Regions from separate parts of the Homo sapiens genome. Here region 2 is linked to region 1. Evidence: fine-mapped expression QTL. A gene starts in region 1. The other region holds a variant in brackets. All regions are shown on one strand. Distances are between the middles of the regions. Region 1 holds the start of COQ4 (coenzyme Q4). Region 2 overlaps DNM1 (dynamin 1).

What was found. PIP is the estimated chance that this variant, and not a neighbour inherited with it, causes the effect. A credible set is the group of variants that fine-mapping cannot tell apart.
Region 2: its variant is the best candidate, but not a certain one, in a credible set for the expression of COQ4 in whole blood (TOPMed, PIP 0.51).

The regions. Positions count from the first base shown.
Region 1 is chr9:128,320,845-128,324,844 of GRCh38, reverse strand. COQ4 (coenzyme Q4) reads right to left here and starts at 2,006. Exons shown (of 7, transcript NM_016035.5): 1 at 1,917-2,006; 2 at 1,698-1,829. The coding sequence starts at 1,986. It overlaps TRUB2 (TruB pseudouridine synthase family member 2), which reads left to right and starts at 2,398. Exons shown (of 8, transcript NM_015679.3): 1 at 2,398-2,545; 2 at 3,115-3,246. The coding sequence starts at 2,437. RefSeq lists a silencer at 1,719-1,778 and an enhancer at 2,159-2,698.
Region 2 is chr9:128,237,410-128,241,929 of GRCh38, reverse strand. It overlaps DNM1 (dynamin 1), which reads right to left. Exons shown (of 22, transcript NM_004408.4): 12 at 2,415-2,485; 13 at 2,151-2,202; 14 at 1,934-1,945. Among named protein-coding and RNA genes, the nearest start is that of MIR199B, 5.2 kb to the left of the region's middle. The variant C/T (reference allele first, on the strand shown) is at 2,124.

The sequences.
Region 1 (4,000 bases):
TAGGCATCAGAGATGCTGGGCTACAGTCCAGGTGTGTTCACTATCTAGGTGACCTAGTACAAATTGCTTCACATTTCTGTTTTGTTTTGTTTTTTTGAGACAGGGTCTTGCTCTGTTGCCCAGGCTGGAGTGAAGTGGTGTGATCATAGCTCACTGCTAGGACTACAGGCATGCAGCTAGTTTTTTAAATTTTCTGTAGAGATGAGGTCTTGCTATGTTGCCCAGGCTGGTCTTGAACTTTGGCCCCAAGTGATCCTCCCACCTTGGATTCCCAAATTGCTGGGATTACAGGTGTGAGCCACCATGCCTGGCCTGCTTCACATTTTTCAGCCTCAGTGTCTTAATTTGTGAAGTGCAGACAACACCTTTCTTAGCTGGTTAATGTGAGAAACCATGAAAATCATATATATATAACACTTAGTGGCCAAGTGTAGCGGCTGACACCTGTAATCTCAACACTGGGGGGCTGAGGCAGGAGGATCACTTGAGGCCAAGAGTTCCAGAGCAGCCTGGGCAACGTGGCAAGACGCCGTCTCTACAAAAAAATTAAAAAATTCGCTGGTCTTGGCCGGGCGTGGTGGCTCATGCCTGTAATCCCAACACTTTGGGAGGCCGAGGTGGGAGGATCACCTGAAGTCAGGAGTTTGAGACCAGCCTGGGCAACATAGCAAAATCCCGTCTCTACTAAAAATACAACAATTAGCCAGGCCGCACAGGCCTGTAATCCCAGCTACTCAGGAGGCTGAGGCACGAGAATCGCTTGAACCTGGGAGGTGGAAGTTGCATAGAGCTGAGATTGCGCCACTGCACTCCAGCGTGGGCCACAGAGCAATACTGTGTCTCAAAACAAAACAAACAAAAAACCACTGGGGACATGGAGATATAGTGTATTTTTTGTTTAAGACAGGGTCTCGCTCTGTCGCCCAGGCTGGAGTGCAATGGCGCAATCACAACTTACTGCAGTCTCGAACTCCCCGGCTCAAATGGTCCTTCCACCTCAGCCTGGGAATACAGCCGCATGCAACCAGCCCCAATTAATTCTTGTATTTTTTTTTGTAGAGATGGGGATTCACCGTGTTGCCCAGGCTGGTTTCAAACTCCTCAGCTCAAGCCATCTGCCCGCTTCGGCCCCCCGATAGGGATTATAGGCGTGAGCCACTATAATAGCGCCTAGCCTGTTTTTGTTAGTAGGAATAACAGTACTTCCCAGAACTCAAAAATCTAGGAGGCATAAGAAAAACACTGTAGAACCCTAGAATGTTCTAGTCACACATCCAGCAAACATTTATTGAGCATTTACTATGTGCCAGGCACTATCCAGAAGGCTGCAGATGCAGTGGAACGAGGCAGACATGGTCCTCGACCTCGGAGTTGACTTTCTAGTAGGATATTATAAACTGATCGGTACTTATGAATCATCTATTTAGTCTAGATGTTCTCAATATGGCTGCATGACAGATTCTCCCAAGTAGTTTAAAGACAGACTTTCGGTTTCACGCCCATTTCTCCCTCCACTGCAGATTCAGATTCAGATTCAGTGCGTTTAGGTGGGATCCAGGAATCTGCATTTTCATAAACGTTCCGAGTGGTTACGAGCTGCAACCAGGTTTGGGTACCCCGACCTAGGCTATGTTCCAGTTACCCACAGGAAACGGCTCCAAGCCGCCCCCACGGGGGCGAGGCGCGGGCGGCCTTACCGTGGCGGTAGGGGTTATAGAGCGCCATCGCCGCGGAGCCGGCGGCCAACAGCCCTTTCTGCAGCGGGGAGGTGGGGAGGTGGTGCGAGTATAGCGGGCCGGCGCCGTCGCTCCTAGCCCGGAGGGGCATTTCTGCGGGGCAAGAAAAAGGCCGAGGTCAGAGGAGCCGGGCGCCCTCAGGCTCCTTCCCGCCTGCGCCCAGAACCCGGCGCCACTTGCCTGCCGCAGGCCGCTGTAGGCCCGGGAGCCCGCAGAGCCGACGGAGGACAGGGCGCAGCAGAGTCGCCATGGCAGCGGGCGTCCGCGGAGGATGGGCGGGTACGAAGAACGCCGCGATTCTGTCAGGCGACGGAGCGTCGGAGGGGTCAAAACTCACTGAAAAACCGATTCTGACGGCGTAGCCTACGGCCTTTCGAGGGGAAACATCGCTTCACGGGCAGAAGGCATGTAGGCCAAGTAGGCGAAGGAAACGCACGCGAACTGTCTACCGTCTACGTCCACCGATCCAAGACTCTCGCCATGTCACCTCGCCCCAGAAAGTGTCTGCAAAGGACACGCAACCACGCTCACTCAGCGCCGGGCCCTATTTCCTTCTCCACAGCCGGTTTTCCCCGAAGACTATAAAATGCGAACCTCTTCCGGCTGTGGAACATGGCGGCGCCCGTGGAAAGGACCACATTTGGGGGCGGGGCCTGGCGGTACTTCCGTCCAGGTCCAGCGGGTGCTGTGATCTTCAAGTATGGGGTCTGCTGGCTTGTCGCGGCTGCATGGGCTTTTCGCGGTCTATAAGCCCCCGGGGCTAAAATGGAAGCACCTGCGGGATACAGTGGAGCTACAACTTCTGAAGGGTGAGTGCCTCGAACCAGACCCACGTTCCCGCTCTCGTTCTCTTGGAAGTCCATCTCCGCTTCTGGTCCTTACCCCAAAACAAAATCACGTGACCTATTCACCTGGGCAGAGCGCTTTCCCAAACGCCTGTTCTCTGTGCTTTCTTACTCCTCACTTTCCTCTGTTTTCCGAGGGGGAAACTGACTCAGTATTGTTCCTTGTCACACGGTTACTACGTTGTAGAGTCTGTTTGAATCCGCCTGTTTCTTAACTACTGCTATACTGCCCTCTGCACCATGGGCTTCTGCTTTGTCTTCTACATCATACTTCCCTGTTGTCTAATCCCCCAAGTGTTTGGACAGAACAAGATATTCCTGGTCAGCATCGTGGTGCACGCCTGTAATCCCAGCTACTCTGGAGGCTGAGGCAGGAGGATCGCTTGAGCCCAAGAGTTTGACGTTACAGTGAGCTATGATGGCGCCATTGCACTTCAGCCTGGGCTACAGAACGAGGCCCTGTCTCTTAAAAAATATTTTATATGTACATATATTTGTATGTATGTGTGTATATATTATCTCTGTGTGTTCAGGTCTCAATGCCAGGAAGCCTCCCGCTCCTAAACAGCGTGTTCGCTTCTTGCTGGGCCCCATGGAAGGCAGCGAAGAGAAGGAGCTGACCCTCACAGCCACCAGCGTACCCTCTTTCATCAACCATCCACTGGGTAAGGCAGATTTAAGCAGGATCCTGTGTGTCACTTCCCAGGAAATCCCTGAGCCGAGTCAGTGTCCCAGTGCTCAGATTCCTGTGCCAGGCCCTTGAAGGTCCACAGAGGAGTGAGGTATTAGACCAGGAATTGGCAGATTTCCTTGGAAAGGGCCAGATACTGAATGTTTTAGTTTTCAGGCCATGTGATTTCCGTTGGAACTGCTCAACTCTGCCAATGTAGTGCCAAACAGCTATAGACAGTATCTAAAGGAATGAGCCTAGCTGTATTCCAATAGAACTTTATGAATATTCATATTTGAACTTCAGGTAATTTTCACGTGTCACTAAGTACAGTTGCCTCTGAGTCCATGAGTTCCACATCCCATGATCCAGCTTCAGATTGGCAGTATTTGGGAAGAAAAACACAAAGTTCCAAAAAGCAAAACTTGAATTTGCTGTGCACCTAGTACTGTGTTGAATCCACTCAAGGTGATGCATAGGCATTATATTAGGCATTATAAGTAATCTAGCTAGGCGTGGTGGCTCACGCCTGTAATCCCAGCATTTTGAGAGGCCGAGGAGGGTGGATCATGAGGTCAAGAGATCGAGACCATCCTGGCCAACATGGTGAAACCCCGTCTCTACTAAAAATACAAAAATTAGCCGGGAGTGGTGGCAGGCGCCTGTAGTCCCAGTTGCTCAGGAGGCTGAGGCAGGAGAATCACTTGAACCCGGGAGGCGGAGGTTGCAGTGAGCCGAAATTGTGCCAC
Region 2 (4,520 bases), 83 kb after region 1:
TTATGGGGCCGATTGGGGAAGCCAACTGCGAGTCTTGGAAGCTTAAGGTCTCATCTGTTCTGAGATGTGTTTCTGACTTTACACATGCTGCTGCCGCCTCTGCCTAGAAAGCACTTTTTCCTTTTTGCCTGGCAAATTCCTACTCAGCCTTTGAGTATCAGCTCAGGATTCACATTCTCAGGCAGCCCCTTCCTGTCCCCCAGTATAAATCAGGATTCCCATAATGATCTTTGATCACTCCCTGAAGTCGACTTCTGTAACAAGGGCTTCGATTTTTAATTAACTTCTCTACGTGCGTGTGTGTGATTATCTGTCGATGCAGCCTCCCCTGCTAAATCATGAACTGTTGGTCACTAGTACATCCCAGCACCTTGCAGAGGGCCTGGCAGATAGTAAGTGATCAATACATATTTGTAGTATGAATAAATAAAAGCTATGATAGTACGGTTCTAAGGGTCTTTGGCTCCAGGTCCCCAGGGGCAAGGGCTGAGCCACAAAGTGCCTAGAGTAACAAGCTAAGGTCCCTTTTCATGGCAGGAAGCAGCTGTCCCCAGGACTGTCCAGAGCCATGGCCACGGTCCAGGGCCTGTGGATTCTACTTCAGGGGTAGGGTCACTGGCCAGGTACTGGTCATGGGTCAGATCGAGAGGATGAGGCAGCTGCTTCTGCTCCCTCCTGGACGCTGACCTCCCCAGCTTCTTCTCTGAGCATCCAGAGAAGACCCAAGGAGGCCTGGGGCTGGCGGCAAAGCCCTCTGGGGCCAGGCTTGCTTCTGGAGCCCTCCTTATGCCTCTCTGGTTCCCTGAGAACCTCGCTGAGAACCCAAGCTGCACAGCCCAGCAGCAGTTGAGCTGAGGGGAGAACACCAGCTGCCTCTCTCACCCCTTCCTGATCAGGCGAGGATCCCCACAGGGTCTTGTCACTGTCTTTGGAATTGAGTCCACTGTGTCCCACGATGTGACCAGCAGATCTTGCCACCTGCTCCCCACCCTAACTTGTAGTCTTTGTCCTCCCCCTTGGCCACACCCAGCCCTGAACTCCTCTCTGCTCATCCTAAGCCCTCTCTGCAGCCCTGCACCAGGGACCTCCTGCTCTCCCAACTCCCACCCTGCATGGAGCTCTCAGGGGCCTTAGCTGGGCCCTACCAGCAGGCCCAGGTCTCCACGTCCTGTCCAGGGGCCAGCACCGTGTAGGCACCAGCTAGTGTTGGCTGAATTGAATTGTCCTGATACTACATTCATTCCTCCCTTCATTCTGTTGAGCACCTACTGCGTGCCAGGCTAGGGGCTTGAGCTGAGGATTTAATGATAAACGGGACAGACTCAGCCCTCCCCTTATGGGGCCTGGGAAGGAAATAGACATTAAGCCAATAATCACATAAACACCTAGAGTCTTACAAAGAAACTACGGCCTCTGGAACCTATGGAAAGAAAAGCTGAGGACCCTCGGGCTCATGTGTACAACTGAGCAAGCGCTTCTGACGAGGGATGTTTCCGCAGACATCTAAGGACAGAGAGCAGGAGGCCAGGTGAGCAGTGACTTCTTGACTTCTCTTGACTTCTCATTCGTCTCTTCATTCAAGTCCGGAGGCGATGGCTGTCAGCTTCTTAAAAATGTGTCTTGCTCACGTGCATCCCTCCATCCAGCAGATGTTTAAGGAGCACCTACTCCGTGCCAGGCCCAGCCTTCTCACCCACCCAGCCCCACACGGTCTAGCTCTGCCTGAAGTAGGTGCTTGGCTCGTGCACACAGATGGACGGGTGGATGCGGCTGGGCCTGCCTCTGGCCTGAGGGCAGGTGTGAAATGCCAGGGGCTGGTGTGTACAAGCAGCTTCAGCCAAAGGGTGCCCTCCTACCCGTTGCAGATCCCCACTGCCGATGGACCCTCCGCCCCCTCACTACACAAGCCGAGAGCCCCAGTCCTGGTACTCACCAGAATCTCATCCTGCAAAGAGGTAACCATAGCAACCACGAGAGGCATCGGGGAGAGAGGAGAGAGGGTTACTGAGGCAGAGTGGGAGGCTTGTGGCTGGCAGCTGACAGGTCCCTGGCCCCCGTGGGACCCTTCCCCTCAGGGGAGGGGGCTCTCAGAGTCTGGTGTCCGTCCGGCACCCTCCATCCCT[C/T]GGGCTGGGGTGCTGGGCCCCACTCACCTGGTTCCCTGAAGTCTTCTTCTTGTTCATCTGGTTGCTCCTCTGCTGAGCACTAATGGGAGGGAGGGGAGGAGTCTCAGAACTTCTCAAGAGGCCCAGCTCTACTGCCCACTGCTTAGTGGGCACAGGACCCAGAGGGTTAACCTAGCAGACCTGGGCTCTACACACACACACACACACACACACACACACACACACACACACACACACACGTTACCTTCTCTGCCCAGGGAGCACTCACTTTTTGCCTGGGGGAGCACTCACTTGGCAAAGCCTATGAAGTCCTCATGGTTGGTGTTCATGTAAGCCAGCTCGATATCGATGAGAAGCATGACCTTCAAGGATACATAGGTTGGTGGGCAAGCGCAAAAGACACCACAAAGTTTTAAAATGCAGGGCAAGCTGGGAGAAAAGTACTTGCAGCACATATAGGAGGTTAGTATCCATAATAAATATAGTCCCTACCATCAGTGAAAGACAAAAGCTGAGCGTGGTGGCTCACACCTGTGATCCCAGCACTTTGGGAGGTGGAAGTGGGAGGATTGCTTGAGCCTAGGAGTTCAAGAGCAGCCTGGGCAACATAGGGAGACCTGTCTCTACCAAAAAATACAAAAGGTAGCTAGGCATGGTGGCATGTGCCTGTAGTCCCAGCTACTTGGGAGGCTGAGGAGGGAGGATTGATTGAGCCCAGGAAGTTGAGGCTGCAGTGAGCCAAGATTGCACCACTGCATTCCAGCCTAGAAGACAGAGCAAAACCCTGAGAGAAAAGAAGAGAGGAGAGGAGAGGAGAGGAGAGGATGAAAGAAAGAAAGAAAATCACAAATTGGCCAGGTGCGGTGGCTCACGCCTGTAATCCCAGCACTTTGGGAGGCCGAGGTGGGTGGATCACAAGGTCAGGAGATCGAGACCATCCTGCCTAACACGGTGAAACCCCGTCTCTACTAAAAATACAAAAAATTAGCCGGGCGTGGTGGCGGGCTCCTGTAGTCCCAGCTACTTGGGAGGCTGAGGCAGGAGAATGGTGTGAGCCCAGGAGGCGGAGCTTGCAGTGAGCTGAGATGGCACCACTGCACTCCAGCCTGGATGACAGAGTGAGACTCCACCTCAAAAGAAAAAAAAAAAAAAAGAAAATCACAAATCAAAATAGTCAAGAACATGATGAATAATTCATAGAAGAAATGCATACATCCACTAAGGATGTGTAAAAAATCCTTACTCTCATTAATAAAGAAATGTAAGTTAAAAATGAGGCTTTTAGCCAGGCGCAGTGGCTCATGCCTGTAATCCCAGCACTTTGGGAGGCCGAAGTGGGCGGATCACCTGAGGTCAGGAGTTCGAGACCAGCCTGACCAACATGGAGAAATCCCGTCTCTACTAAAAATACAAAATTAGATGGGCATGGTGGCACATGCCTGTAATCCCAGCTACTTGGGAGGCTGAGGCAGGGGAATCACTTGAACTCAGGAGGTGGAGATTGCAGTGAGCCGAGATTGTGCCATTGCACTCCAGCCTGGGCAACAAGAGCGAAACTCTGTCACAAACAAACAAACAAACAAACAAACAAACAAACAGAGGCTTTTTAAATGATCAGCATGACACAAGTGTTGGGAAATGAGCTCTCTCATATATTGTTGATGGAAGTGTAAATCAGTATCACCTTCTCTGAGGGCAATTTGGCAATATTTAACAACATTAAAATGCACAGGGCAGGGAATGGTGGCTCATGCCTGTAATCCCAGCATTTTGGAAGGCCGAGGCAGGAGGATTGCTTGAACCTAGGAATTCAAAACCAACCTGGGAAACATGGAGAAACCCTGTCTCTACAAAAAATAGAAAAATTAGCCAGGTGTAGTGGTGTACGCCTGTGGTCCCAGCTACTTGGGAAGCTAAGATGGGAGGATCGCTTGAGCCCAGGGATGCAGAGGTTGCAGTGAGCCATAATGGCACCACTGCACTCCAGCCTGGGCGTCAGAGCGAGACCCTATCTCAAAACAAACAAACAAACAAACAATGCACATATTCACTTCCAGAATTGTATCTCACAGATACACTCATCAAGTGAGCAAAGATACATGAGCCAGAGTATTCAAAGTAGTACAGTTTGTAATAGAGAAAAATTGGGAGCAAGCCAGTGGCCATCTGAGGGTGAAATAGATTATGACACTCTCTAGACAAGAAAGCACCCTGCAGCTGTTCAAAAGAACAAGGACAGGCCGGGCGGGGTGGCTCACGCCTGTAATCCCAGCACTTTGGGAGGCCGAGGCAGGTAGATCGCTTGAGGTCACAAGTTCACAAGTTCGAGATCAGCCTGGCCAACATGGTGAAACCCTGTCTCTACAAAAATACAAAAATTAGCCGGGCATGGTGGCA